7 linked regions of the Homo sapiens genome follow. The protein of the gene in region 1 interacts with the protein of each later gene in a biochemical or structural test. Each region holds a gene or a part of one and is shown in the gene's direction. Other genes may lie near its edges.

Evidence for each region.
Region 2: the proteins of UBE2K (region 1) and TRIM6 form a complex in vitro, tested with the Homo sapiens proteins (one study listed by BioGRID).
Region 3: the proteins of UBE2K (region 1) and AMFR form a complex in vitro, tested with the Homo sapiens proteins (one study listed by BioGRID).
Region 4: of the proteins of UBE2K (region 1) and RIGI, one has a biochemical effect on the other in vitro, tested with the Homo sapiens proteins (one study listed by BioGRID).
Region 5: the proteins of UBE2K (region 1) and RNF138 form a complex in vitro, tested with the Homo sapiens proteins (one study listed by BioGRID).
Region 6: of the proteins of UBE2K (region 1) and USP1, one has a biochemical effect on the other in vitro, tested with the Homo sapiens proteins (one study listed by BioGRID).
Region 7: of the proteins of UBE2K (region 1) and MAP3K1, one has a biochemical effect on the other in vitro, tested with the Homo sapiens proteins (one large-scale study listed by BioGRID).

Annotation. Positions count from the first base shown.
Region 1 is NC_000004.12:39,770,749-39,774,802, forward strand, and holds part of UBE2K (ubiquitin-conjugating enzyme E2 K), read left to right. Parts: exon of another isoform or gene 1-951; intron 952-4,054. UniProt on the Homo sapiens protein: Accepts ubiquitin from the E1 complex and catalyzes its covalent attachment to other proteins. In vitro, in the presence or in the absence of BRCA1-BARD1 E3 ubiquitin-protein ligase complex, catalyzes the synthesis of 'Lys-48'-linked polyubiquitin chains.
Region 2 is NC_000011.10:5,599,309-5,603,362, forward strand, and holds part of TRIM6 (tripartite motif-containing protein 6), read left to right. Parts: intron 1-3,937; coding exon 3,938-4,054. Other genes in the region: TRIM6-TRIM34 (tripartite motif-containing 6 and tripartite motif-containing 34), read left to right, coding at 3,938-4,054.
Region 3 is NC_000016.10:56,422,746-56,426,945, reverse strand, and holds the start of AMFR (E3 ubiquitin-protein ligase AMFR), read left to right. Parts: upstream 1-1,400; 5' UTR 1,401-1,618; coding exon 1,619-1,873; intron 1,874-1,956; exon of another isoform or gene 1,957-2,035; intron 2,036-2,211; exon of another isoform or gene 2,212-3,276; intron 3,277-4,200. UniProt on the Homo sapiens protein: E3 ubiquitin-protein ligase that mediates the polyubiquitination of lysine and cysteine residues on target proteins, such as CD3D, CYP3A4, CFTR, INSIG1, SOAT2/ACAT2 and APOB for proteasomal degradation.
Region 4 is NC_000009.12:32,480,929-32,484,982, reverse strand, and holds part of RIGI (antiviral innate immune response receptor RIG-I), read left to right. Parts: exon of another isoform or gene 1-3,485; coding exon 3,486-3,643; exon of another isoform or gene 3,644-4,054.
Region 5 is NC_000018.10:32,098,253-32,102,306, forward strand, and holds part of RNF138 (E3 ubiquitin-protein ligase RNF138), read left to right. Parts: intron 1-4,054. UniProt on the Homo sapiens protein: E3 ubiquitin-protein ligase involved in DNA damage response by promoting DNA resection and homologous recombination.
Region 6 is NC_000001.11:62,443,361-62,447,414, forward strand, and holds part of USP1 (ubiquitin carboxyl-terminal hydrolase 1), read left to right. Parts: intron 1-1,377; coding exon 1,378-2,069; intron 2,070-3,980; coding exon 3,981-4,054. UniProt on the Homo sapiens protein: Negative regulator of DNA damage repair which specifically deubiquitinates monoubiquitinated FANCD2. Also involved in PCNA-mediated translesion synthesis (TLS) by deubiquitinating monoubiquitinated PCNA.
Region 7 is NC_000005.10:56,884,828-56,888,881, forward strand, and holds part of MAP3K1 (mitogen-activated protein kinase kinase kinase 1), read left to right. Parts: intron 1-1,104; coding exon 1,105-1,236; intron 1,237-2,550; coding exon 2,551-2,693; intron 2,694-3,398; coding exon 3,399-3,530; intron 3,531-4,054. UniProt on the Homo sapiens protein: Component of a protein kinase signal transduction cascade. Activates the ERK and JNK kinase pathways by phosphorylation of MAP2K1 and MAP2K4. May phosphorylate the MAPK8/JNK1 kinase.

The DNA of each region.
Region 1 (4,054 bases):
CCCCTCCCAGGCCTCCAGGGGGCTTGAGCCGGTGTGCGATGTCCAGGGCCGACTCCACCTTGACGATGCAGATGTCAGATACGTCCTCATCCTCATCCTCTTCCTCGGCTTTCAGCTCCAAGTCCTCATCCAGTGGGAACTCCAGCTTCACTGGCCGCAGGAGTGGAGGGGATAGAGGAGGTGGGGGGTGGGGGCTTCGGGGCTGGCTTTGGGGTCCTGGCTGGAGGGAGGAGGGACTTGTTGGCGCTGACGCTGCTCACAAGGCTAGCCTCACGGACCCCATCCTCTTTGAGGCCTATTTTGGGCTCAGTGAACTGGCTGAGGGCATTCTGGCATTTCTCCACCACGTGCTCCATCTGCAGGTAGGAGGTGGCTGTAAGATAGTTGACGATGTCCCTAACAGCGAATTCCAGGGTGCCCGTGTAGCAGGAGAGAAGCAGGTCGGCCACGATGCGTGCACTGTGCATCAGGGAGACCTGCAGCTCCGAGCTGGGGTTAAGCAGGAACTGGTCCCGCAGGAACGGTGAGCAGGCGGCTAAGATGACCTTGTGGCCTCGAAACTTGAGGCTGTCGGCCACAATGGTCACGTCGCAGAACCACTCCTCTGCCCGGAGCTTGTTCATGTTCCGTAGCGTAGCGGCCTAGTGGCCGGGCAGCTGGAAGCGCAGGACTTCACCCCAGAGGCCATTGTGGCGGGGGTGGGCAACCCTGGCCCGGTTCCGCGCGCTGTTTTTTTTTAATCCCCTATTTTCCCCACCCCCGCGGGGCCGGAAGCGCCCCCCACACACGGGCAGAGCCAGGGCAGCATGTAGGCGCAGGGCGGGAGGGTGTATAGGGCGCGCTCGCGCTGGCGGGGCCGGCTCCACGTGGGCGTAAAGGGGTAGGGGCGGGAGCGGCTCGTGCGGTGTGTTCCAGGCCTCGCGCGCGCGGCGACGGCGTCGGCTAGGACTCAAACCCTGGAGTTTCTGATTCAGTAGCTCTGGGATAGAGAAAACTTCCCAAGGGATGCTGATGCTGCTGGTTGGATGAACAACACTGAGATCATTGCTTTAAGACATCCATTGTTGGTTGTTGGCAATAACTTAACTTTTTGGCTAGGGGTGGAGGTGTAGGAGACAGTCTGGCTGTCTCCCTCAGGCTGGAGTGCGGTGGCGCCATCTGGACTCACTATAACCTTCGCCTCCCAGGTTCGAGCGATTCCTGCCTCAGCCCCTCAAGTAACTGGGATTACAAGCATGTGCCACCACATCTGGCTAATTTTTGTATTTTTGGCAGACAGTGTTTCGCCATGTTGCCCAGGCTGGTCTCAAACTCCTGGCCTCAAGTGATCTGCCTGCCTCGGCCTTCCTAAATGCTGGGATTACAGGCGTCAGCCACTGCACCCAGCCTAAATTAACTTTTATCGTAGGCATCTAGGGAAGTACTATTTATGTACCAAACTTGGGAAAATTGAGAAAACAGTCACTAATTTTTTCTATTTTGTGGTTCAAATCAGGAACCCAGTTGAAAAAGGCTGGTTTAGAGTAATTGGCTAGTTGTCGTGGCTCACACCTATAATCCCATCACTTTCGGGGGCTGAGGTGGGAGGACTGCTTGAGCTCAGGAGTTCAAGACCAGCCTGGGTAACATGGTGAAACCCTGTCTCTACCAAAAAAAAAAAAAAAAAATTGTTTTTAATTAGCTGGGCGTGGTGGTGTGCACCTGTAGTCCCAGCTACTCAGGAGGCTGAGGTATGAGAATCACCTGAGCCAAAGAGGTCAAGGCTACAGTGAGCCTTGATTGTACCACTGCACTTTAGCCTAGGCAGCGTGAGACCCTATCTCAAAAAAAGAAAAAAAGAAGAATGATCTAATTTACATGGTAAAAATGGGCATTCTCTTTACATGTAACATTTTTAATATGTCCACATATTTATACATACCTCTATTAATTGATAAAGCAACTTTTTTTTTTTTTTGAGATGGAGTCTCGCTCTGTCGCCCAGGCTAGAGTGCAATGGCATGATTTTGGCTCACGGCAACCTCCGCCTCCCGAGCTCAAGCGATTCTCCTTCCTCAGCCACCTGAGCAGCTGGGATTACAGGCACATGCCACCACGCCCAGCTAATTTTTGCATTTTTTGTAGAGATGAGGTTTCACCATGTTGGCCAGGCTGGTCTTGAACTCCTGACCTCAGATGATTGCCCGCCCTGGCCTCCCAAAGTGTTGGGATTACAGGTGTGAGCCACCGCGCCCAGCCAGTGAGACAACTTTTTTTAACAGAAATGCCAAGAATTATTGCTAGACAGGTAGATACTATTTTTTAGACAAATATTAGCTTTATAAAGATATTTTCCTTATAAATACATTTAGAATCATAAATTAAGTGATGTAGTTTAATCCAAAAAACTTGTCCTGTTTCAGAATGTTATGGAATGATTTCATATTTTCTTGAAAATATGGCCGGGCGCGGTGGCTCAAGCCTGTAATCCCAGCATTTTGGGAGGCCAAGGCGGGCGGATCACAAGGTCAGGAGATCAAGACCATCCTGTGTCTCACGGTGAAACCCTGTTCTACTAAAACTACAAAAAATTAGCCGGGCATGGTGGCATGTGCCTGTAGTCCCAGCTACTTGTGAGGCTGAGGCAGGAGAATTGCTTGAACCAGGGAGGTGGAGGTTCCGGTGAGCCGAGATCGCGCCACTGCACTCCAGCCTCGGCGGCAGAGTGAGACTCCATCTCAAGAAAATAAAAGAAAAGAAAAAAGAAAATATATTTGTTTCATAGTATCTTGTTTTTAGAGTGCCATTGAAAGAAAGCCTCACATGCTATTAGTACTAATGATTTATCACTTTAACTTTGTTTAGAGAAATGGATAGAAAAATAAGTGAGTGGATAAAACTAACAAGAAGGTGGCTGGGCGCGGTGGCTCACGCCTGTAATCCCAGCACTTTGGGAGGCCGAGGCGGGCGGATCACGAGGTCAGGAGATCGAGACCATCCTGGCTAACACAGTGAAACCCCGTCTCTACTAAAAATACAAAAAATTAGCCGGGCGTGGTGGCGGGCGCCTGTTGTCCCAGCTACTCGGGAGGCTGAGGCAGGAGAATAGCGTGAACCCGGGAGGCGGAGCTTGCAGGGAGCCGAGATCGCGCCACTGCACTCCAGCCTGGGCGACAGAGTGAGACTCCGCCTCAAAACTAAACTAAACTAAACTAACAAGAAGGATCTTGGCAACAAGAAAAACAAGGACAGTTCAGAATTCGAGTTGTCTTAAGAAATAGAAAAGCTGGCCGAGTGTAGTAGCTCACACCTGTAACCCTAACCTTTGGGAGGCCAAGGTGGATGGATCACCTGAGCTCAGAAGTTCGATACCAGCCTAGGCAACATGGCAAAACCCCGTCTTTACGAAAAAAGGAAAAACAAAAAAAATGCTGGGTGTGGTGGTGTGTGCCTGTAGTCCCAGCTACTCGTGAGGCTGAGGCAGGAGAATCGCTTGAGCCCAGGAGGCGGAGGTTGCAGTGAGACAAGATAGTGCCACTGCCCACTCCAGCCTGAGCGGCAGAGCAAGACACTGTCATTAAAAAAAAGAAAAAAGGCCGGGCGCAGGTGGTTTTTCATGCCTGTAATCCCAGCACATTGGGAGGCCAAGGCGGGCGGATTACGAGGTCAGGAGATCGAGACCATCCTGGCTAACACTGTGAAACCCCGTCTCTACTAAAAAAAAAAATACAAAAAATTAGCTGGGCGTTAAGGCGGGCCCCTGTAGTCTCAGCTACTCTGAAGGCTGAGGCAGGAGAATGGCGTGAACCCGGGAGGCGGAGCTTGCAGTGAACCGAGACTATACCACTGCACTCCAGCCTGGGCGACAGAGCCAGACTCCGTCTCAGGGGAAAAAAAGAAAAAAGAAATAGGCAAATTGTAAAGTAAGGAAGAAAATATATGATAGGCAGATACATAATTATAAATGTCTATGACTTAACTATATAATTAAGATAAAGATCTAAGTAACTTTTAGCTCTACAATTTTTTAATTTTTATTAAGAAAATACTTTGCTTTTGCCTGCAGAGCCCTCTT
Region 2 (4,054 bases), on another chromosome or scaffold:
GTGTGCATGTGTTTGTTGGGGAGGATGAATTGGAATTGGACTTTCAATTAAAATATAATACCAATACAATTATTATATTTATTTATTTATTTATTTATTTATTTATTTATTTTGAGACGGAGTCTCGCTCTGTCGCCCAGGCTGGAGTGCAGTGGCACGATCTCGACTCACTGCAAGCTCCACCTTCCGGGTTCACGCCATTCTCCTGCCTCAGCCTCCCGAGTAGCTGGGACTACAGGCATCCGCCACTACACCCAGCTAAATTTTTGTATTTTTAGTAGAGACAGGGTTTCACCGTGTTAGCCAGGATGGTCTCGATCTCCTGACCTTGTGATCCGCCTGCCTCAGCCTCCCAAAGTGCTGGGATTACAGGCTTGGGCCACCGCGCCCGGCCAACACAATTATTTTTTAACAGTAACACTTTGATAAGATAGCACATTTATTTCTATACTCTAGTGCCAACATCAAGGCCAACTATAAGCTCAGCAGTAAGCTATAATTTTCAATCCATTATAAAGTTAATTGATCATTTCCTGTGTTAGCTGCAGTGCTAAGGTCTGGGGCACCTGGAAGATAAATAGAGCCTCTATTGCCTCTAGAGCCTCTATTGCCTCTATTATCAAAGGCAATAGAGCCTTATAGTGCAGTGTGCTAAGTGAGATGATGTGGGTATGGTAGGAGATATTAACAAAGGAAATAATAGTGCAGTTCCCACAGGTGTGATTAATTTGGTTAAACAGACTCTCAGATGATAGGTAAATACGTCTGTAACACCAATTAGTACTACCAGTTAGATGCACAGAGTTCATTAATTTGTTAATTATATTTTGCACCCTTTATGGAGATGAGGAATATAAGGGAGTAATAAGAGCTCCAGCTCTGCAGCCTGCGTATCTGCATTCAACACCGGCCCCGCCACTTGAAAGATCTACTAAATACCAGTTTATACAACTATGAGATGAGATTTAAGGGACATTCATAATGTTGTTATGTGGAATTATTGAGTTATTATGTACAAAATAATTAAATTCTTGCTGAATACCTAATGGGCTTTCTGTAGATATTTGCTGTGAGCATCGCTGCTGCTAAGCATGGCAAAGCTGAAGAGCCAGGCTAGTACTTGCAGAAGCACCACAGAACACTAGATGGCAGCGCCAAGAACCTGTTTTCGGCTCGCTAGATCCCCCAGCAGGGCCGCTAGGAGGCTTATGCTTACATCCCATGACTTTTTCTTACCCTTATCTGAGACACTTTCTCAGGCCCTTTCTTCTAAGGGGAGTGTTGTTATTGGGAGGCAGTTTGATATACTTTTTAAATCCACCAGGTCCTCAAGATGGGGGTAAATTGGTACAATTTACAGGGCCTTGTGTTGAGGCCCACACGGACTGTTTTTTACATCAGTGTACATTTACTTTTGCTGGGAAACCAGCCAAAGACAAGTTAGAGAATTCTGCCTGCTCCCTACGCACTGTGGCCTGTTCAGAACAGCGAGGTCACGCCTGGAACCAGGGCCAGAGCTTCACATAGGCAGTGTTAGCTGGCTCTTCTTTGGTGGCCCAAACACAACTCCAGGTAGACAAGCAGAACAAATGGCTCCCAGTGAAAATAACTCAGTGCTGGAAACAGTTTTAAAAATTTTCTAAAGAGTATTCTCAGTGTGATTTTAAACAATGGTAACGTAATTTATCAACAACTCTTCCAAGAAAAATAGACAATAAAGGTCATATTTCTCAATGAAGATATAAGGTCTCAACTGCCTTACCGGCCACCTCTCCTTACATATGGACCCCCTTAGGATCCTGCTGAAGTTTAAGACAGGCCCTGGCAAAATCCCATCATCAAATAGGATCTCTCTCATTTCCATACTTCGAAAGCACTTGGTCCATGCCTGACTTTCACAGCCTTTACCACTGACTGTCTTTGGTCAAAGTTATGAGTTTGAGGACGAAGCTTTGAACTAGCACCCTGGAAAGGTTAGGTTATGCCAATTCTACAACTTACAAGGTGCATGATTGTGTAAAGTCACTTAATGTCTCTTCTTATTAAAGAATGGAGAATACTCTTATTTATGCAGAGTTGTCCATGAGGGATAAAGAAAGCAAGAGAATGTGATTTCTAAATCACAACTGGTTACAGAATCATGAGTTGTAAAAATATTACCTCCCCAGGCTGGGCGCAGTGGCTCACGCTTGTAATCCCAGCACTTTGGGAGGCCAAGGCAGGCAGATCACTTGAGGTCAGGAGTTCGAGATCAGCCTGGCCAACATGGTAAAACCCTGTCTCTACTAAAAATACAAAAATTAGCTGGGCATGGTGGCGCTCACCTGTAATCCCAGCTACTCAGGAGGCTGAGGCACGAGAATCGCTTGAACCCGGGAGGCAGAGGTTGCAGTGAGCCGAGATAGTGCCACTGCCCTCCAGCCTGGGCGATAGAGCAAGACTCAGTTTCAACAACAACAAAAAAATTACCACCCCTTATTGTGGCCATTGCTGTTTCTTTGGTTTTTTTCTGAGAAGGCGAGCATGTGGTGAGAGGGCTCTATGTGGAGCAGGGCCGTTAAGAAGTGGAAGTGTTTTCACAGTCTTAGAGATCAGATACCAGAGAGTGATGCAAAGGTGATGGCAGAGAGGTGAAAGAGCTCATGGAAAGGTCACAGATGATCACTGTAGAGGATGAGGGGGTTCTGACCCCCTCATTCATCCAAAGTTGAGGACCTATATGTCAGGCTCTATGCTAGCTGCCGAAGATACAACCATGAACAAAAAGTCTCAGATCTCATGGAGCTTACATTTCACTGCGAGGATTCAAACAAGTAAAGATCTGTATTAAGTGGTGTAAGAAGTAAAATAGACCGGGTGCAGTGGCTCATGCCTGTAGTCCCAACCCTTTGGGAGGCCAAGGCGGGCGGATCATGAGGTCAGGAGATCGAGACCATCCTGGCTAACACAGTGAAACCTCATCTCTACTAAAAAATACAAAAAAAATTAGCCGGACATAGTGGCAGGCACCTGTAATCCCAGCTACTCGGGAGGCTGAGGCAGGAGAATGGCTTGAACCCAGGAGGCGGAGCTTGCAGTGAGTCGAGATCACGCCACTGCACTCCAGCCTGGGCGACAGAGCAAGACCCCCTAATGAGGTGAATATGTGGAGAGTGATTGTATGGTGGCTGTGCTCTAAATAGACTAGTCAGAGCAGACCCTTCTGATAAGGGAATAGGTAGGAAGCTAGTAAGTCATGCAGATAGCAGAGTAAAGGGTCATCTTTACATCACGAACGACAAATGCAAAAATCCTGAGGCAGCAGTGTGTTTTAGGTGCTTTTAACATTGAGGATATGTTTTGGGTGAGAAAAGGTCACACAGTCTCCAGGTGCGGTGGCTCATGCCTGTAATTCCAGCACTGTGAGAGGCCAAGGCAGGAGCATCACTTAAGGTCAGGAGTTCAAGACCACCCTGGCTAACATGGTGAAACTCCATCTCTACTAAAAATACAAAAACTAGCCAGGTGTTGTGGCACGTGCCTGTAATCCCAGCTACTCAGGAGGCTGAGGCAGGAGAATTGCTTGAACCTGGGAGGCGGAGATTGCAGTGAGCTGAGATTGTACCACTGCATTCCAGCCTGGGTGACAGAGTGAGTCTCCATCTCAAAAAAGAAAAAAAAGAAAAGATCACACAGACAGTGACTCACACAGGCCCCTCCTTTCCAGGGCCTCAGTTTGTCTCTATTCAATAGGAGCAAGAGGAAATTATCACTGCTTTAATATGGGGAGAAATTGGTGCCTTGTATGAGCCGGGATAAAGAACGTATTGGATATGAGAATGAGAAGCCCTTGTTACCCCAGGTGTCTGACCTCTTTATCCAGGACTGGGCAGTCAGTATTCCCTTATTCTCCCTCCTTTCTTACCCTGATCCTTTTTTTGTTTGTTCATCTACCTAGGATTCTACAGGCAGGAAACATCTTAGAAATCAGGGTTGGGCAGGCAGGAGCCAGGAGAGTAGCTACAATGACTTCACCAGTACTGGTGGACATACGAGAAGAGGTGACCTGCCCTAT
Region 3 (4,200 bases), on another chromosome or scaffold:
AAGGAATAAAACTCCCAAGGTAACATTTTTTTCCTTTGGTAACAGCTTATTGAGATACAATTCGCATATTGAGATAGAACTATTTAAAGTGTACAATGATTTTTCAATTCAGAGTTGGGCAATCATCACCTCAATTTTACATTTTCATTACTTTGAAAACAAACCTATCCCAGCCAGTGACTCACGCCTGTAATCCCTGCACTTTGTGAAGGCAAGGTGGGAGGATCACTTGAGCTCAGGAGCCACAGACTGGTCTGGACAACATAGCAAGACGCTGTCTCTACCAAAAATTAAAAATTAGCCAGGTGTGGTGGCATACGCCTGTAATCCCAGCTACTGGAGAGACTGAAGCAGGAAGATTTCTTGAGTCCAGGAGATGGAGGATGCAGTGAGCATGCCACTGTACTCTAGCCTGGGCCACAGACCCTGTCTCTTAAAAGAAACCTGCACCCTTTATCACCCCCTACTCCCCTCTTCCTCCCATCCCTAAGCAATCATTAATCAACTTTCTGTGTCTGTATATGTACTTGCCTATTGTGGACATTTCATATCAATGGAATCACACAACACGTGGACCTTTGTGGCTGTCTTCTTTGACTTAGCACGTGTTTAAGGTTCGTTCCTATTGTAGCATGTATCAGTAGTTCATTTTTATGGCCGAATAGTACATTTTATGGATGTATCACATTTATCCACTCATCGCTTGACGGACATTAGCGTTGTTCCCATCTTTTGATTGTTAGAATGTAATCAACATTTGTGTACAAGTTTTGTGTGGAGGTATGTTTCCACTTTTCTTAGAGGAGTGGAATTACTGGGTCAAATGGTCACTCTTGTTTGACTTTAAGGAAAGGACAGGTTATTTTCCAAGACAGCTGCACCATTTGACATTCTCACTTCTGGGGTATGAGGGAACACATTTTTATTTCCCGCTAAATCAGGTTCATTTTTTAGTTTCTGCTGGAGGCTACTAGCAAACAGCAGAAACTTGAAAGACTGTTAATATTCTTTCTTCTGGGGTTTCGGGCACCAGGGAAGCTGCGCGGCCCCTAGGAGTGCTGGGGGTAACCTCTTCAGAGGGTTAATGGGGTGGGGGGGGGGCAAGTGGCCGACGGCCTGGTGGCCAGGGTGCCCCGCGCCCTGAGGCCCTGCCCGCCTGCCAGCGCCTGCGAGCCCGAGTGACCCCTGCGCCGCGGCCGGAGCAGGTGCCCTCTGTGTCTGCGGGCCCAGCCAAGCCGTGGTGCGGACGGCGGATGATGCTGGGTGCCCGCCCCCCGGCCTGAGGCCCGGGGCTACGCCCGCTAGGCGGCGGCGCGACCGCTGGGGGCGGGGGACGAAGGCCGCGCCCCTGCGCCCGTCCCGCCAGCGTCCCGCTGGGGGCGGCGGCCTGTCCCGAGCCCGCCCAGGCTCTTCCGCGCCGGCAGGGGCAGCAGCGGGAGCAGCGCGGGGCGGAGCGGCGCCAGCAGCCAGGAGCGGCCCGGCCCGGCCCGGCGCGGCGGCGGCGGCGGCAGCGGCAGCGGCAGCGACGCCAGAGCCCGTGGGCGCCGTTCGCGAGGCCGCCGCAGAGGCCCGGCCGCAGCGCAGGGAAGCCTGGGGGCCAGAGGTCGCCGCTGCCGCCATGCCGCTGCTCTTCCTCGAGCGCTTCCCCTGGCCCAGCCTCCGCACCTACACGGGCCTCAGCGGCCTGGCCCTGCTGGGCACCATCATCAGCGCCTACCGCGCGCTCAGCCAGCCCGAGGCCGGCCCCGGCGAGCCGGACCAGCTAACGGCCTCGCTGCAGCCTGAGCCGCCGGCGCCCGCCCGGCCGAGCGCCGGGGGACCCCGGGCCCGCGATGTGGCCCAGTACCTGCTCTCAGACAGCCTCTTCGTGTGGGTGAGCGAGGCGGCCGGGCCCGCGGGGCAGGGGCGGGGTCCGCTGCGTCACCCTTTATCCGCGGGGGCGTGGTGGGCCTAGGGGCCCCTCCGCCAGGGACCCCCGAGGGCGAGCGCCTGGGGGGCGCGGCCTTGCTCGCGGGAGCGCTGCTGAGGGAGAGTGGTGAGGCGCGGGGAGGGGGAGGGGGCCGCGGGCGGGAGGAACATCGCGTGGGGTTGCGAGGAGGAGGCCCCGAGGGGCAGGCCAGCGTTGAGGGCTCCGGGAAGGGGGTCGGGGAGGCGGCGGGTGATGGTCTGCGCTGGGGCGCGGACGGGGCCTGGGGCAGGGGAAGGGGTTAAGGGGCAGTGGGGAGGAACGGGCTGGGTTTTCTGAGGGACCCTCGGGAGAAACTAGAAGATCTCAGAGGGCAGGTTCAAGGGGAGGTCGGGATCTGGGAGTGCGTTATCCCGAGGGTTGGACGAAGTAGAGTGAAGTTGAAAGCTTTTCCCACTTGGTCAGGCATGGGATTGTTAGCGGATTTTCTTCCGACGAAGAGGAGAGGGCAGAGGGGAGAATTCAGACGTTGAGTATGGGGGAATTTTCGGCACTCAGGTGTCTTTGGACATTCCGGTTGGAGAGAGGCCGTCTCCCACAACTTTTTTGCCGCTTAGTATTCGATTGTCCCCTTTGGGAGCTGTGTAATGAAACAAACACCAAACTGTGCTTCCTTTTCTGCTGCCTTTACCTGATGTTCATGACAGTTTTCCTTTGATGTCTGAACGCAGCAAAACATTCACAGTGTCAAGAGGCAGCCCATCATTTTAACTGAATGTTTCTTATTTGAGGATCTATTCTAACACAGTTTCCAGGTTGTCTGCCCCTGCGAGATAAGCAGCATTGATAAGGCACACATGCTGGTTTCGTTCATTAGAACAGATAATTTCAGACTGATCAGATCAACGGTATTTTGGCTAGAGAATTTTGCTTTCATCTTGGCCTTGAATACTTATGTAAATCCCGCAGTGATCAGAAAAGTTTCTCCAGGATTTAAAGCCTCACTTGGATTTAATATGGCTTCTTGGATCTTGTCTCCTTGCATGTTCCCATTTGGGGTTGAAAGTGGGCTGTAAATGACTGAGAGATTAATATTCCAAGTTGATAGTATGATATGCAACTCATTTGTTATAATTAGTCCCACTGTGCTTCATCAGGAAGCGGTGGGATTTATGGACTCTGTGGGCTGTAGATTAAGTCTCCTGGTCCTTCTGATGGAGAGTTTAGTAGAAGGCAGTGAAGGGTGAAGTTCCTGTTTATCTACTGCTGTGTAAAGCTGAACTTTACAGTCCTAAAGAAGGGAGAAGCGAAAGAACTCAACTCACATCTCTTGCTTAATTTCAAATCTGTTTTTGCATTTGAGTTAGCAGGTAAACAAAGTGATATGGAGAGTGTTTTTGCCATGTTAAGATTATAATGTAGTCTTTGATATTTTTTAAGTCTAAGATATAAATAAGCCTTTGAGAAGGAACCCTTATTTTATTTATATAACAACACTGGTATTGTTTAATGGATTTCCCCCCGCAGGACTTTATTTTGATAAAAGCCATGTTCAGATTCTAAAGTTAATATCTCTTCAGAAAACATTACATAAAAGCTGTTGATTTTTCTGTGATGATGATTACTTTTTAGGAAATTTCCTTTTCTTCCAGCATTTTCAGTAGAGGTCTTACCTCTGGCAGGTTTATCACTTCTTACTCTCCGCTGATGATATTTTCATTTCTCAGTTGATCCTAGTGCTGTTTTTCTTCCATCTTTCCTCTGGGGTCTCCACGTGTTTACTTTGGCCTGCTTTGGTTTCTCAGACCCTCCATGTGCTCACTGTTTGTCTCATCACTCAGTGTATATGTAGTTTCTGCTTTAGCAGCTGAGTAGAAGTGACAATCTCAAAAGCCTTCCCCAGTGGTGGGACAGATTAAGATTGTTGAGTGAATACCCTATGTGGTGGTGCCTTTGTCAACTGGATCCTCCTTGCGCCCTCCCCTAGTTCTATTGAATTCAGATTCAACTTTTTCACGAACACTGCCTGCCAAGGCCAAGCAAGACAAAACAAAGACTGATCCTTCTGCCAGTGCAAGTCCTGCTAGATATTAACATATTGTAATTCCCAAAACTTATCTTTTTAGAGCACAGTTTAGAATAATATCGGTCTGATAGCATCACAGGAGGTTTTTCATGAACAAACACAATTTAAAACCTTTCGAAGGTGTTATTTTGGGCACTTTGGAGGGCATATCTGTGAACAACACTTTCCCCTACCCTCAGTAATATGGCAAAATTTTATAGGGGATAAT
Region 4 (4,054 bases), on another chromosome or scaffold:
AAATCCAAAGTAAGTTCATCCAGACACATGCACCTGAAAAATAACCATACTTAAGTCAGTTCATTGCTTTCTCTACCTTCTAAATCAGCTTTCCCTCCTGACTTTCCTGTTCACCTGAATGAAACCACCATTCCTCTACTGGCTCAGATTTATATCTAGGGACAATCACCCAGCACATTTCCCAGCATTAAAGGAGTGCGACTAGAGATGGGCCAGGGGAAGACAGTGAAGGGCCTGGATTTGAATTTTATCCTAAAAACAATGGGGAAAAAAGTGAAGATTAAAACTGATTAGTGACGTAATAAAGATACCAGTGAATGAGAAGGACCAAAGAGAGGCAGTAGAGATGGATTGGAGAAGGAAGGAGACACATGTGAGATGCTTCCAACTGTGAGTGTTATGATTGAATGGCTAAACGGATTTGGGTGGGGATGAGAAAGGGGCAGGAGGGGCTGATTTCCCCCCAGGCATCTGGCTTAGGCACCTCTATGAATGCCAGTGGGTGGTCCTGGTACCAGGACTAGAAGCAGCCTTGGCAGGTACAAGGTTTTGAGTTTTGAGTTTTAGGGATGTTAAATGTGACGTCTGTAAGACACCTCATGGAGTGTCTCCTCTCACACTTATTTTGCTTTTCTCTCCCCTTTTCTTTCACAGTTTAATTTCTATTATAATTGTTCTAACAGCCTTCTAGCTGATTTTGCCTACCTCTGCTCTCTCTTCCATTCAACCTCTCATGAACTAGTTAGTCTTCATGAATACATTTTATCATGTCCCTGTCCTGCTTAAAAACCCTTTGCCTACAGGATAATCTTCACGCCTCTAACCTGCAGTCTGAGCCCTGCCTGAACACCCAGGTTCTACTTATCTTTCCAATGTTATATTCTACTACTTCCCTACCTGAATCCTTTTGATTTAGCAGTTTCCCGAATGTGTTCATGCATATGTTCATTCATTTAGTGCTAAGGAATGGGCTAGGTGATGGGAATACAGCATGAACCCTAAGATACAGCCCCTGGCCTCAGGGCATTTCTAGTCTGATGGTAAGACCAAAATTAGAGAAGTAATACTAATACTAAAGCAGCTGGTGTGGTGGGGGTGATAAGGTGTGTTTCAGGCACAGGGAATAGCATATGCAAAGGCCAGGAGACTAGAAAGAGTATAGGGACTTCCATTAGTCCTGTAGAATGCTGAAAGGAGAGTGGCCAGAAATGAGAAGCAAAAGCAAGCAGAGGCCAGAGCATGGGGAGGAGTGTGTGAGCTGGGGCAGGATTTTGGCTGCAGGACCACTAAAGGCTTTTAAGCAGTGGGGTGGGATGATTTCTCATCTGCAATTTTGCAAACTCCCTCTAACCACTGGGTAGAGTATGGGTTAGAGGGAACAAGGCAAGAGGAAGGGAGACCAGTTTGGAGATTGTCATATTATCCAGCAGCACACTGATGTGGTTTGAATTGGGGAAGTAGCAGAAGGATGGAGAGACGGTGATGGAGTCACGTGAGTTTCTATTTTCTTACTCCTCCCACCTCCCGTACCCTGCCTCCACCTTTTTGCCAGTCCGAATCCAGTTAGCTGCTCATCTCTAAACTGCTTAGGCTATTTTTACACCTACCCAGGTTCAATCAGTACCTGTTGGCTCATCTTCTTTACTGCTGGCCACCTCGCTGTAGCTGCAACTTGGAAAGAAGCATGTCAATACTACTTGTTTGGGTAGCCTCCTTTGTTCCTATTATTGAAAATGAATGAGTGAGGGGAAGAATTTAACCCAGAAATACAGCTCTTGCTTGTGACTTTTGTTGTACTGTGCTCTTCATGAGGAGCCCTGGCGAACTGATACCAGAGTAACTCACAGACTCAGCTGCTTGAGAACACAGCCATAGTCTCCTCATCTTATCCCCAGCACCCTACACAGAGCCTGGACCACAGCAGATGCCCCAGCTTTGAACCAAGCAACTGAGGCTTATCCTAGGAGATGCACACAGACAGATGCATGTGTGATAAGTGTCTTTTGAGGGCCGATTCTATGCTTGGCCCTGAGAATGCTGCTCTGGAGAACAGGAGGCCCAAGTTCACAGCAAAGCAGAACATAGGGTGAACTGAGTCCTAAATCTCCTCCTTGATTTTTTTTTTTTTTAAGAGTCTCACTCTGTCGCCAGGCTGGAGTACAGTGACGTGATCTCGGTTCACTGCAACCTCCGTCTCCTGGGTTCAAGCGATTCTCCTGCCTCAGTCTCCTAAGTAGCTGGGACTTCAGGTGCGTGCCACCACCCCCAGCTAATTTTTGTATTTTTAGTAGAAACGGGGTTTCACCCTGTTGGCCAGGGTGATCTCAATCTCTTGACCTCGTGATCCACCCGCCTGGGGCTCCCAAAGTGCTGGGATTACAGGCATGAGCCACTGCGGCCGGCCAATCTCCTGCTTTTATATATCCTCCTCTGATGAAGCTCTTGAGACCTGTTATTTTTACTTCTTCATTTTTAAAGGCAAAGTTGGGTTTTTCATGTCTACTGTTTTATTTCTGGGCTGCTTTGGTTGTCAGCTCATAGAGCCAGTAGAGCTTGGGCATCTGACACATGTGGGTTTGAATTCCTGCCCTTTCTCCACGTACTTGCTGTGTGACTATGGGTAAATTACTTATTACTTGGCTTTTCTGAACTTCAGTTTCCCAATATATGAAATGTAATATGTATCTCATGGGTTGTGAAAATTAAATGAAATTATGAATGTAAGGTACTTTGATTCTTGGTACACAGTACTCAAGAAACAATCAAACACACACACACACACACACACACACACAAACAAACACACAGATGCACTGCTTAAAACTCAAGGGAGGGAACAAGGCAAGAGGTAGGGAGAACAGTTTGGAGGTTGTCATATTATCCAGCAGCACAGTGGTGTTATCTCAATGGGGGAAGGAGCAGAAGGATGGAGAGATGGTGATGGAGTCACATGAGTTTCTATTTTCTTACTCCTCCCACCTCAGGTACCCTGCTTCCACCTTTTCACCAGTCTGAATCCAGTTAAATAGTTTTAACTAGATGACTTAAGACTATTTCAGGAGGAATATCCTGTTTGCAGAGAGTAAGAAAGAAAATTAGGCCAGGTGCAGTGGCTCACGCCTGTAATCCCAGCACTTTGGGAGACCGAGGCAGGCGGATCACCTGAGGTCAGGAGTTTGAAACCAGCTTGACAACATGGTGAAACCCTGTCTCTACTAAAAATACAAAAATTAGCCAGGCGTGATGGCACACGCCTGTAGTCTCAGCTACTTAGCAGGCTGAGGCAGGAGAATCGCTTGAATCCGGGAGGTGGAGGTTGCGGTGAGCCAAGATCGTGCCATTGTACTACAGCCTGGGCATCAGAGCGAGACTCTGCCTCGAGGAAAAAAAAAAAGAAAAAGAAAATTAGAGGGTGAGGCCTGTTTATAACCCTAAATGACTGACCATATGAGACAGTGAAAAACTTTTTTTTTTTTTTTTAACAGAAAACTTATCTCAAATTCAAAATAGGGAATTTGGAACACAGAAATATGAACAATGGATTGTTACAGTTCAGAAAGCATGCATGGTGTTCCAGATGCCAGACAAAGATGAAGAGAGCAGGATTTGTAAAGCCCTGTTTTTATACACTTCACATTTGCGGGTACGTTCCTCTTTTTAAGAGTCGTATTCTGGTCACAGCACCTACTGGGAGTGGCACCGTGGAAGCCAAGATAACATCAACTTCTCATCCTGTCCTCAAGAGCTCACTTAGGAACCTTTCCAGAAAGTTCTTATGAAGCAAACTCCAAAAGTTGTCCCATTCAACATCATCTCGATTTCCTTTCTGAAATTTCATACTGCAGGCAACAGGACTGAAATAAAGGCTCAGATTCTATGCCATGCCTCTAGCATTAACTGACATGGTTGGAAAAAATTGGGTGATTGTGAGAGAACATTATTCCAGATACAAGACCAGTCCAGTGACAGCATCTTGAAAGCTCAGCAAGTGGAAAGTTCTGTTGCTATGTCCTGAAGCACACATTTCTTCACCTTTGGTGACGCCCCATGCTCA
Region 5 (4,054 bases), on another chromosome or scaffold:
GCCTTGGCCTCCCAAAGTGCTAGGATTACAGGTGTGAGCCACTGCGCCCACAATATATTTCTTATAGTTTAAATTTTTTAGAGATGGGGTCTTGCTTTGTTGCTCAGGCTGGTCTCAAACTCCTGGTCTCAAGCAGTCCTCCCACCTGAGCCTCCTGAGTAGTGGGGACTACAGGTGAGTGCCACAGCACCTGGCTTTGTAATTTTAACAGCTTTATTGGTATCTTGTTACTTGAGTAGTTATGCTCTAAGTATATACTTTAAAATAATTTTCTTCTTTCCTAAAATCTGTGCTATTTAATTATATAATAAAGGTTGAGGCCGGGCGCAGTGGCTCACGCCTGTCATCCCAGCACTTTGGGAGGCCGAGGCAGGCGGATCACAAGGTCAGGAGATCGAGACCATCCTGGCTAACACAGTGAAACCCTGTCTCTACTAAAAATACAAAAAAATTAGCCGGGTGTGGCGGCAGGCGCCTGTAATCCCAGCTGTTCGGGAGGCTGAGGCAGGAGAATGGCATGAACCCGGGAGGTGGAGCTTGCAGTGAGCTGAGATGGTGCCACTGCACTCCAGCCCGGGCGACAGAGTGAGACTCCGTTTCAAAAAAAAAAAAAAAAAGATTTACTTAATTTTAAATCTTGAGGACTAGTTTACAACCTTTGATTTTTTTTTTTTTTGAAGTTTTTTTGGGGAATGATCTCGATTATCGACTCGGAAAATAGATAGACTAAGTGCCAGATTTTAAATTATTTAATTTATACTGAAATTGGGAGCATGATGAGTGGGAATATTGTTTTTCCTCTCCCAGTGTTGTTGATTAGCCTTTTGTTGGGAGAATGCGTAATGGAAATTCGTCTAGCATCTGCTAGTTTAAAGTTGAGAGAAATGTAAAGAGACCTTTTTTGGTTATAGGGTAATGCCCTGTTCTGAAGATACGGGCCTTTTCAGGAACATGAAAATTAGTTTTAGTAATTCTTGATTTGTACCTTTTTCCTTCCTACTTCTGCTTTGTTTTGAAATAAGTTCTGTCTAGCACTTTGATCCATTCCAGCCCAAAGTGAGATGAGAATAATTCGTTTTATGTCTGAAGAAACATGCTTGGTTGTACAGAGGAAGGAACAGTAAAATTGGAGATAAGAGACCTGAATATCTCTATTTTATTTTATTTTTAGACAAAATCTCGCTCTGTTGCCCAGACTGGAGTGCAGTGGTGCAGTCTTGGCTCACCGCAACCTCCACCCATTGGGTTCAAGAGATTCTCCTGCCCCAATCTCCCGTGTAGCTGGAACTACAGGCATGCACCACTATACCCGGCTAATTTTTTTGTATTTTTAGTAGAGATGGTGTTGCACCATGTTGGTCAGGCTGGTCTCCAACTCCTGACCCCAAATGATCTGCCCCGCCTCGGCCTCCCAAAGTGCTAGGATTACAGGTGTGAGCCACTGCACCCGGCCATTCTTTGTACCTGTTATCACAGTTTGTAATCATAACATTTTTGGAATCAGATAATTTGACCAATGTCAGTTTCACTGGTTAGGCTGCAAGCTTTATAAAGAAAGCATCCAAGATCTCCTGTTACTTACTTAAGCCTACTAATATATCGTTTCACATATGAGAGTTTTTCCTGCCAGCTAAATTCTGACAAATGGAATTGCTGGGTCAAAGGGTAGATACAAACAAATATTTCTGATACATCACACAAGAATAATTGCAGCTCTAGTGAAGTGTCTTGTTCATGGAAAGTGCTCAAGGTTTTGATTTGAGAACTGTCAATTATATCTTTTGGTTAAGGGATTTAATACTTTTTAAATTAAGGTAAATTGGCATTCATTGCTTTAGCAAATATTAGGACTGCCTAATAGGTGCCTAGCACTGTTAGGTGCCAGGGATATTGTAAAGAGCAAATAGATAGGATCCCTGCCCTCTTGGAGCTGGGTGTTAGTGATTGAGATATATATATATATATATATAAAATCTTTGGTTGTACAGGGGAAGGAACAGTAAAATTGGACATAAGAGACCTGAATACCTCTATTTTATTATTTTATATATATATTTGAGACAGGGTCTTTCTCTGTTGCTCTGTTGCCCAGGCTAGAGTGCAGTGGCATGATCATGGCTCACTGCAGCCTTGACCTCTCTGGGCTCAAGTAATCCCCCTTTAGCCTTCCCAGTAGCTGGGACTACAGGCATGTGCCACCACCACACCCAACTAACTTTTTTTTTTTTTTTTTTTTTTTTGAGACGGAGTTTTGCTCTTGTTGGCCAGGCTGGAGTGCAATGGCGCGATCTCGGCTCACTGCAACCTCCGTCTCCCGGGTTTAAGCGATTTTCCTGCCTCAGCCTCCCAAGTAGCTGGGATTAAAGGCATGCGCCACCAGGCCTGGCTAATTTTGTATTTTTAATAGAGACGGGGGTTTCACCATGTTGGTCAGGCTGGTCTCGAACTCCCAACCTCAGGTGATCCACCCACCTCGGCCTACCAAAGTGTTGGGATTACAGGCGTGAGCCCCCGCGCCCGGCCTGTATTTTTTGTATAGACTGGGTTTCACCATGTTGGCCGGGCTGGTCTCGAATGCCTGAGCTCAAGCGATCTGCTCGCCTTGGCCTCCCAGAGTGCTGGGATCACAGGCCTGAGCCACTGCGCCTGGCCTGAGATATATTTAAATTAAAATAAATGCTCAGAAAAATGGTGTAATTACAAATGTATAGGTTTCGAGAGAGTATAAGAGAGGGATCAGATCTAGTGGGTGAGTATCGATGACCCTTTCTTTAGGAAGTGATATTGTTGCTGATATCTAAGAGAGATATAGGTATTAATTTGTGGAGGGCTGTGCTCGTGCATAGAACATTCTGGGGAGAAGAAACATTCTGGACAAAGGTCCCGAGGTAGGAGGGAACATGCAGGGCTTTGTATTTGAATGACAGAAACATCTTCTGGGCTTCAACCTCTTATAGGTTTCTTTTTTTTTTTTTTTTCAAAGACAGAGTCTGGCTCTGTTGTCCAGGCTGGAGTGCAGTGGCACACGCAGTCTTGGCTCACTGTAACCTCCGCCTCCTAGGTTCAAGCCATTCTTCTACCTCAGTCTTCTGAGTAGCTGGGATTACAGGCGTGCACCACCACTCCTGGCTAATTTTTGTGTATATATATATATTTTTAAATTAGAGTCAGGGTTTCACCATGTTGGCCAGATTGGTCTTGAACTCCTGACCTCAAGTGATTTGCCTGCCTCACTCTTACAGGTTTATTAACATTTTATTTTTTTAAGCCTTAGTTTCCTCATCTGTAAAATGAAGGAACTTATTAAGAAAAATTTATTTTTTTTTAAGAATTCAAGATCATGAATGGATAGTTTCTGGGATCCAGCCTAGCACCTAGCACATATTATGTACGCAATAAGTGTTAACTGCTATTTTCATAAATGTCATGTTGCTTTCCCAAAAATTGAGCTAATTTACAAAATGCCATTAGTACTATAAAAGTATATTTGTAATCCATCATCTTTGCCAATTTTGTTTTTTTAAGCATTTTTATGCTATTTTAATACAGTTCATAGTGGTGTCTAGAAGTCACATTAAAATGTATTTCTTTAGTTGCTAGCAAGGCTGCATGCATTTTTCCATATTACATTTTTGCTTGTTTGAGACAGGGTCTAACTCTGTTGCCCAGGCTGGAGTGCAGGGGCATAATCACGGCTTACTGCAGCCTCAACCTCCTAGGCTTAAGCGATCCTCCCACCTCAGCCTCCCAAGTAGCTGGGACTACAGGCGTGCACCACCATGCCTGGCTGATTTTTTTTTTTTTTTCTTCAGTAGAGAGGAGGTCTCGCTGTGTTACCCAGAATGGCCTCAAACTCCTGGACTCAAGTGATGCTCTGGCCAGGGCTTCCCAAAGTGCTGGTATTACAGGTGTGAGCCACCACACCTGACCTTCTTTTAGTTTCTTTTTTTTTTTTTTTTTTTTTTTTGAGACGGAGTCTTGTTCTGTCACCCAGGCTGGAGTGCAGTGGCGCGATGTCGGCTCACTGCAAGCTCCACCTCCCAGGTTCACACCA
Region 6 (4,054 bases), on another chromosome or scaffold:
TTGTTTATATCCTTGGAGGAGAATGACATGCGAAGAAACAGGAATAAAGGGCAAGGAAAGTAGAAACTCTAGGTCCACAGTCCTTTATATCCCAGAGACTCTGAATACTGGAAATTTTTTTCATAAATTTGGTGCTAAATTCGTTAGATCTGAACATATTATATGAGGCTTTTTATAGTCATTCATATTTATCTCTAACGTGAATATTCATACATGCTTCTATAGAAGTAGTAATGTGTTTAGTTATAGAGTACTCCCATATCAAGTCGGTGATAAATATTTTACTTATATGCCATATAATCATTGAATCTGAAAATGTCTGAATTTCTAAATGCGTGGTCCTAAGGATTTCACATTAAGAATTATAGGACTATATTCAAAATATGTGTAAGAACTGTAAATTCCAAATATTCTATTTTTATATGTGATTAGAGGAGAACTGTTGGCTAACTGGATTAGATTGCTTTTTGGTATTTTCTTAAAAATGAAACTTTACATATAAAATAGCCTTATTCAAATACAATTATAGGGCAAGTCTTTAAAACAATCACTTAAGCATTTAGTTTAAAAATAGAACTAGGTGCAATATATTGCTATACCTTAGTTAAGAGGTATTGTAGGCCGGTCACAGCTCACACTTGTAATCCCAGCACTTTGGGAGGTGAAGGTAGGTGGGTCATTTGAGGTCAGGAGTTCAAGACCAGTGTGGCCAACATGGTGAAACCCTGCCCCTACTAAAAATACAAAAATTAGCTGGGTGTGGTGGTTTGCACCTGTAGTCCCACCTACTCGGGAGACTGAGGCAGGAGAATCGCTTGAACCCGGGAGGCGGCGGTTGCAGTGAGCCAAGATTGCGCCATTGCAGTCCAGTCTGGGCAACAGATCAAGACCCTTGTCTCCAAAAAAAAAAAAAAAAAAAAGGCCATTGTAGCGTGGTGGCCAAGAGCGGGTTTGAATACTGGCTTTTCATCCTAAGTAGTTCTGTGACCTTGGGCAAGTTATTTAACCTGTCTGTGCCTTAGTGCTTGTATCTGTCAGTAATGGTGATAATAGTACCTCATAGGGTTATTGTGAAGATAATGTATACATAGGAGATAAAAAACATTTTGACTAAAACCTGGTGTATGGTAAGCATTATCTAAGTATTAGTTATTAATATATTTAGAAGAGGATCAAAGTATTATAATGAAAATAGGGTACAATTTACTCTTACTTTTAGTTACAGATAAGAAATTCCAAATTAGTGCTGAATAAATGTCTTGACATTTAAAAAATGAAATAATTTATGATTTTCCTTACATGAATTAATTTCTATATAGGCTTTATGTACTGTATCTTCAAAACTAGAATAGATGAAATGGAAATTTTTATTTATAGGGAACTCAACCCTATGTATGAAGGATATCTACAGCATGATGCACAGGAAGTATTACAATGTATTTTGGGAAACATTCAAGAAACATGCCAACTCCTAAAAAAAGAAGAAGTAAAAAATGTGGCAGAATTACCTACTAAGGTAGAAGAAATACCTCATCCGAAAGAGGAAATGAATGGTATTAACAGCATAGAGATGGACAGTATGAGGCATTCTGAAGACTTTAAAGAGAAACTCCCAAAAGGAAATGGGAAAAGAAAAAGTGACACTGAATTTGGTAACATGAAGAAAAAAGTTAAATTATCCAAGGAACACCAGTCATTGGAAGAGAACCAGAGACAAACTAGATCAAAAAGAAAAGCTACAAGTGATACATTAGAGAGTCCTCCTAAAATAATTCCCAAGTATATTTCTGAAAATGAGAGTCCAAGACCCTCACAAAAGAAATCAAGAGTTAAAATAAATTGGTTAAAGTCTGCAACTAAGCAACCCAGCATTCTTTCTAAATTTTGTAGTCTGGGAAAAATAACAACAAACCAAGGAGTCAAAGGACAATCTAAAGAAAATGAATGTGATCCTGAAGAGGACTTGGGGAAGTGTGAAAGTGATAACACAACTAATGGTTGTGGACTTGAATCTCCAGGAAATACTGTTACACCTGTAAATGTTAATGAAGTTAAACCCATAAACAAAGGTTAGTATAATTCTTAGACTTTGATAGGTAGAAGCATTAGCAGCTACAGAATTAGAATTTTCTCTTCCTAGATACATGTACAATATAATCTCTGGCTAAAATTGTTTCAAGAGAAGGAAATTTAACACTGAATGTGAACTATGGTGTTTTAAGTGCTATGCTTAGATTAGTGTGTGTGTATATATTGTATGCATATATATGTGTGTGTGTGTGTGTGTAATGTCATTAAAGTAATTTTAATTTATAGCTTATAAAGTAGGGAAGTTCGGCCAGGTATGTTAGCTCGCACCTGCAATCCCAGTACTTTGGGAGGCCTAGGCGGGCAGATCACCTGCGGTCAGGAGTTCAAGAGCAGCCTGGTCAACATGGTGAAACCCCGTCTCTACTAAAAATGCAAAAATTAGCCAGGCATGGTGGCGCACGCCTGTAGTCCCAGCTACTTGAGAGGCTGAGGCAGGAGAATCGCCTGAACCCGGGAGGTGGAGGTTGCAGTGAGCCAATATTATGCCACTGCACTCCAGCCTGGGGCGACAGAGCAAGACTCCGTCTCAAAAAAAAACAAATAATAATAAAGTAGGGAAGTTCAGTATATTTTAATGTACATTTAAGAGTACATTTCCCTTTATGCAGTGTTTGACATAAACTGATGAAGGACATTGCATTTAGTGAAATTTTAAAAGTAAAGACTAAGTACAGTCATGTGTTGCTTAACAACAGGGATATGTTCTGAGAAATGTGCTGTTTCATTGTGTGAATTTCACGGTGTACTTACACAACTAGATGCTAGAGCGTACTACACAACTAGCCTATATGGTATAGACCAGGGTATCTAATCTTTTGGCTTCCTTGGGCCACACTGGAAGAAGTGTCTTGGGCCACACCACACAGAATACACTAATGATAGCTGATGAGCCAAAAAAAAAAAAATCAAAAAAGTCTCATAATGTTTTAAGAAAGTTTATGAATTTGTTACGGGCTACAGGCAAGCTTTGCATGGCCTATTGCTCCTAGGCAACAAACCTGTATAGCATATAACTACTGAATACTGTAGGCAACTGTAGCACAATGGTATTTGTGTATCTAAGACGTATCTAAGCATAGATATGTAAACATAGGTACAGTAAAAATAATCATAGACTACTGTCATATGCGGTCCATTGTTAAATAATTGAAACGTTGGTAGGTGGTGCATAACTGTAAGTTACACGATACTTGAACTAGATTTTTACCTAGTTTTGTCCAGATCTACAGATATCAGGGAAAATGTGTAATATTGATATAGTGAATAGTTTTACCAAAAATGTCATCCTTATTCTGGGTTTATTCTATGGGGAGGTGTCTGTAGGAAGGGAGTTACAATACAACTGACTTTTTTTTATTTTTTATTTTTTTTATTTTTTTGGAGACAGAGTTTTGCTCTTGTTGCCCAGGCTAGAGTGCAATGGCATGATCTTGGCTCACTGCAACCTCCACCTCCCGGGTTCAAGCGATCCTCCTGCCTCAGCCTCCCGAGTAGCTGTGATTACAGGCATGCACCACCACACCCGGCTAATTTTGTATTTTTACTGGAGACAGGGTTTCTCCATGTTGGTCAGGCTGGTCTTGAACTCCGACCTCAGGTGATCTGCCCGCCTCAGCCTCCCAAAGTCTTGGGATTACAGGCTTAAGCCACTGTGCCCGGCCTACAACTGACTTCTTTTAAAGACAGTAATTTCATAGTCAGTTTTATCTTTACAGGGACCTTAAATTTCATTAATAGGGTACCTCTAATAAGCTAATAATGCTAATAAGCTGATCTATGAAAATGGAACTGTTATTCATGATATACTTTATTTAAATGGAAAATTGGTTATTTGGACTATAATGAGAAACTAATCTGTATAGACTTACATTTTCCTATTTTCATTTTAGGTGAAGAACAAATTGGTTTTGAGCTAGTGGAGAAATTATTTCAAGGTCAGCTGGTATTAAGGACGCGTTGCTTG
Region 7 (4,054 bases), on another chromosome or scaffold:
TATGTTAATGTTTTAAATTACAAAATAGTAGTACGTGGATTTAACTTTCTGCAATTTAGGAAAAACCAGTTTAATTAAAATTTATTTCTATCAAATAGTTTGGGTTTCTAAAAACAAATCACCCCAATATATTAGTATGAACCACAAATACTTCGTTTTGTATTTCATTTACTATAAATGAAATATTGACTACCTCTACCTTTTAAATTTTTCCAGTGTGTTTTTAAATGATTGTGTAGCATTGTTGTTTTTAATACTTGATATGTATAAGATATGTATATTTCCAGGTAGCCATGATAAATTGGACAGATGAGGAAGTGTTTTAACATAACAATATACAAACAAAATTAACATATAACTTGAAAACTTACTACAAGTAAACTAGCACTGAAGCATAAAGTTGAACCTTGTCATCTGCTGAAATAAATGAAGACTGAGTTTTATTTTGTATTATACAATGTATACAATAAAATTAATGACCTGATGTGATGAACAGATTGTTTGGTTTAACTTCTTAGATTTGTGTGTGTATTTAAGAGTGCATTTCTCTTTACCAGTCAGTTCTTAAGTATGTTATCTGTTGGTTGGTCTTAATAAAGATTTACACTACAGTAGATAGGTTGACTACTATAAACACTTTTAAAAGCGGCTAAATTTGAGACATGTTCCAGGTCAGAGCTAGTAAATGGTAGAATATGACGCCTAACTCTGGGTTTTCTGTTCCTCCTCCCATTCTTTCCACCTTTTACTACATAATATGTTAACATTGTTTACTTTAGTCATTAATAAAGTTGTTTTGTGTATTTTGAGAAGACAGAGAATTGAATTGTACATTTCAGAAATAGTTTAATCCGAAATTGTTAACTTTTACAGCTTTCTGAAATCTTGACTCTCCAATAAACTGGTTTCCCTGTGGGTTCTGTGAAAATGTCTCCTAATTAGTAGGTTTTTGAGATGATACAGGAATATGTTAGTTTTGAAATGTTTTTCTTCTGTTTCAGATGTGAATGTGAGTTCATGCAGTGAAAACTTTAGAAACCAAAGTGTAATAAATACTTTTAATTCTGTCTTAAGTTTATGATAATTATTTCTATTGTCTTATAGGGGGATCGGTGGCTCATTTGCTGAGTAAATATGGAGCCTTCAAAGAATCAGTAGTTATTAACTACACTGAACAGTTACTCCGTGGCCTTTCGTATCTCCATGAAAACCAAATCATTCACAGAGATGTCAAAGGTGAGAATTCTTCTAATTATTATCTAGTGACAATAAAAAAATTAATTTTAAAATTTGGGGCCAGGCACAGTGGCTCACACCTGTAATCCCAGTACTTTGGGAGGTGAAGGCAGGTGGATCACTTGAGGTCAGGAGCTCGAGACCAGCCAGGCCAACATGGTGAAACCCTGTCTCTACTAAAAATACAAAAATTAACAGGGTAAGGTGGCGCATGCCTGTAATCCTGGCTATTTGGGAGGCTGAGACAGGAGAATTGCTTGAACCCGGAAGGCAGAGGTTGAAGTGAGCTGAGATCACACCACTGCACTCTAGCCTGGGTGACAGAGTGAGACTCTGTCTCAAAGAAGAACAAAAAAATGGACCTTTGTTGATAGTTTCTAACAGTGGGATTTTTTTCTCTGAGTAATTCAGAATATTAGAACTGAAATGAGCCTTAGGGATCATTTAATCTGCCTTCCTCGTTTAATAGAAAAGTACATTGAATACAAGAGAGGCTGTGCCTTTTCTACAGTTTTATTGCTAGTTAATGGCAGAAAGTATACAACACAGGTCTCCAGATTCCCTGTCTTGGCCTCATGATACGCTGACTCCCAGAAAGTTCCTTTTCCTGGTTTTATTTTGAATAATTGGGATATTGGGATATCATCAACTTCTTTTAAGAAAAATTCCTTCAAATCCTTTGTAGGTCCCATTATTTTCCTTATCCTTTTCTTTTTTTTGGAGACAGGTTCTCTGTCACTCAGGCTGGAGTGTAGTGTTGCAAACTTGGCACACTGTAACTCATTTCCTGGGCTCAAGTGATCCTCCCACCTCAGCCTCCCAAGTAGCTAGGACAACAGGTGTGCACCACCATGCCTGGCTAATTTTTTATATTTTTTGTAGAGATGGGGTTTTGCCATGTTGCCCCCAGGCTGGTCTTGAACTCCTGGGCTCAAGCGACCCGCTTGCCTCAGCCTCCCACAGTGCTGAGATTACAGGCGTCAGCCACCGTACCTGGCCTCAGTTTATTTTTCTCAAGAGCAAATTTGGTTTTCTGTCATTAGTCTTTTTAGCTAGTATTTGACATAATGTGTTGAAGTAATTTTATAACTTTTTAAATTAAGCTCTAATTATGAATTTAGCGTACGCTAGAGAGAGCTGTGTGCCTTTAGCAAGAATGAAGTGAAAGGAAAAGAGAATAACTGTTTGCACCTCTGACATGTAGTTCACTTCTTTCTTTTGTCATTGTCCTAGTTCATTAGTATTGTACTGGGCTTTTATCTGTCCTTATTTTTGTTTTTAACATACAAGGTCATTTGCTGTGTTTGTTGACAGGTGCCAATTTGCTAATTGACAGCACTGGTCAGAGACTAAGAATTGCAGATTTTGGAGCTGCAGCCAGGTTGGCATCAAAAGGAACTGGTGCAGGAGAGTTTCAGGGACAATTACTGGGGACAATTGCATTTATGGCACCTGAGGTGAGAAGCATCTTTGAGTGTGATGACAGAAAATATTTTGGAATTCTGTGTAACAGCATTATACTAAATTATCTTGCAGTGGTATCCAGTATGTACTTACCAACTAGAAGTCCGTGGCCCTTAAAATACGGTTTTAATAATATCTTTCAGACCCTTATTCTCGACCTTTCTTTGCCTTGGCAATATTCAAAAAACAGGTTTTAATAGATTTACTTAACGGCTGTTACTAATAAAGAATTCTGGGGTAATTTATAGCAGTTGTTTTGTAATAAACTCAAAGTGCACATAAGAAATTTTTAAAAATATTCTCTCTCTATTCTAAAAGGAGATGAGCATACAGAGGCAGCTCCTGTCTGTAGTGGAAGGAGTTTAAGCATTGTTCTTCTGACTCAGCTTCTTCTGTCGTGTTCATAATTCTTCATGTTCATATGTAGTAATGATCTGTTGTCCTCTTGCCACATAGTTTGCTAAGAGCAAAATTCTGTGATGGGACTCTGCTTCAGAATCTCACAATTCTCCAAAATATTTTTGTGCTACCTGGAAAATTAAGCTCATTAATGAAATAAATTAGATATTAGGTAGTCCACAGAATTCCTGTTTGTACCAGTTTTCTCCCTAAAGTAAGGAAGTAGAATCTATAACTACAAAATGGCCTTCTCTTTTTCAAATGAGTCCTATTTCCAAATTAACTCTGATTTATTTTAGGTACTAAGAGGTCAACAGTATGGAAGGAGCTGTGATGTATGGAGTGTTGGCTGTGCTATTATAGAAATGGCTTGTGCAAAACCACCATGGAATGCAGAAAAACACTCCAATCATCTTGCTTTGATATTTAAGGTAATTGTGAGATAAAAATTACTTCTTTGTGCTAAAAGGAGTACAGCAGAATTTGGCAGGAGGCAAATTTTGATGGGTTCTCCCTAACAATCTAGCATGAAGGTAAATAAATAGTCTGTATATTTATTCAGAGAGGATTTGATATACAAGTTTTTTACTTTAAGATGGTGCAAAAGCAATACAAATTTGGTAAAAACCATACTTTGAATTTTGATTTTTGTCTGAGCTAGCAATATGTGCTATGATACACTGGTGATGCTAGGCAGTGGCAGCGAGTCACAGCTCCCAGTCAGCCACACAATCACGAGAGTGAACAACCAATACTCTATAGTGGACTGTGTTGTCAGATGATTTTGCGGAACAGTAGGCTAATGTAGGTATTATAAGCACATTCAAGGTAGGCCAGACTAAGCTATAATGTTTGGCAGGTTAGGTGTATTAACTGCATTTTCAACTTAAAAAAATATCATCAACTTAAAAGGGGTTTATCACGACATAACCTCAGCGTAAGTTGAAGAGCATCT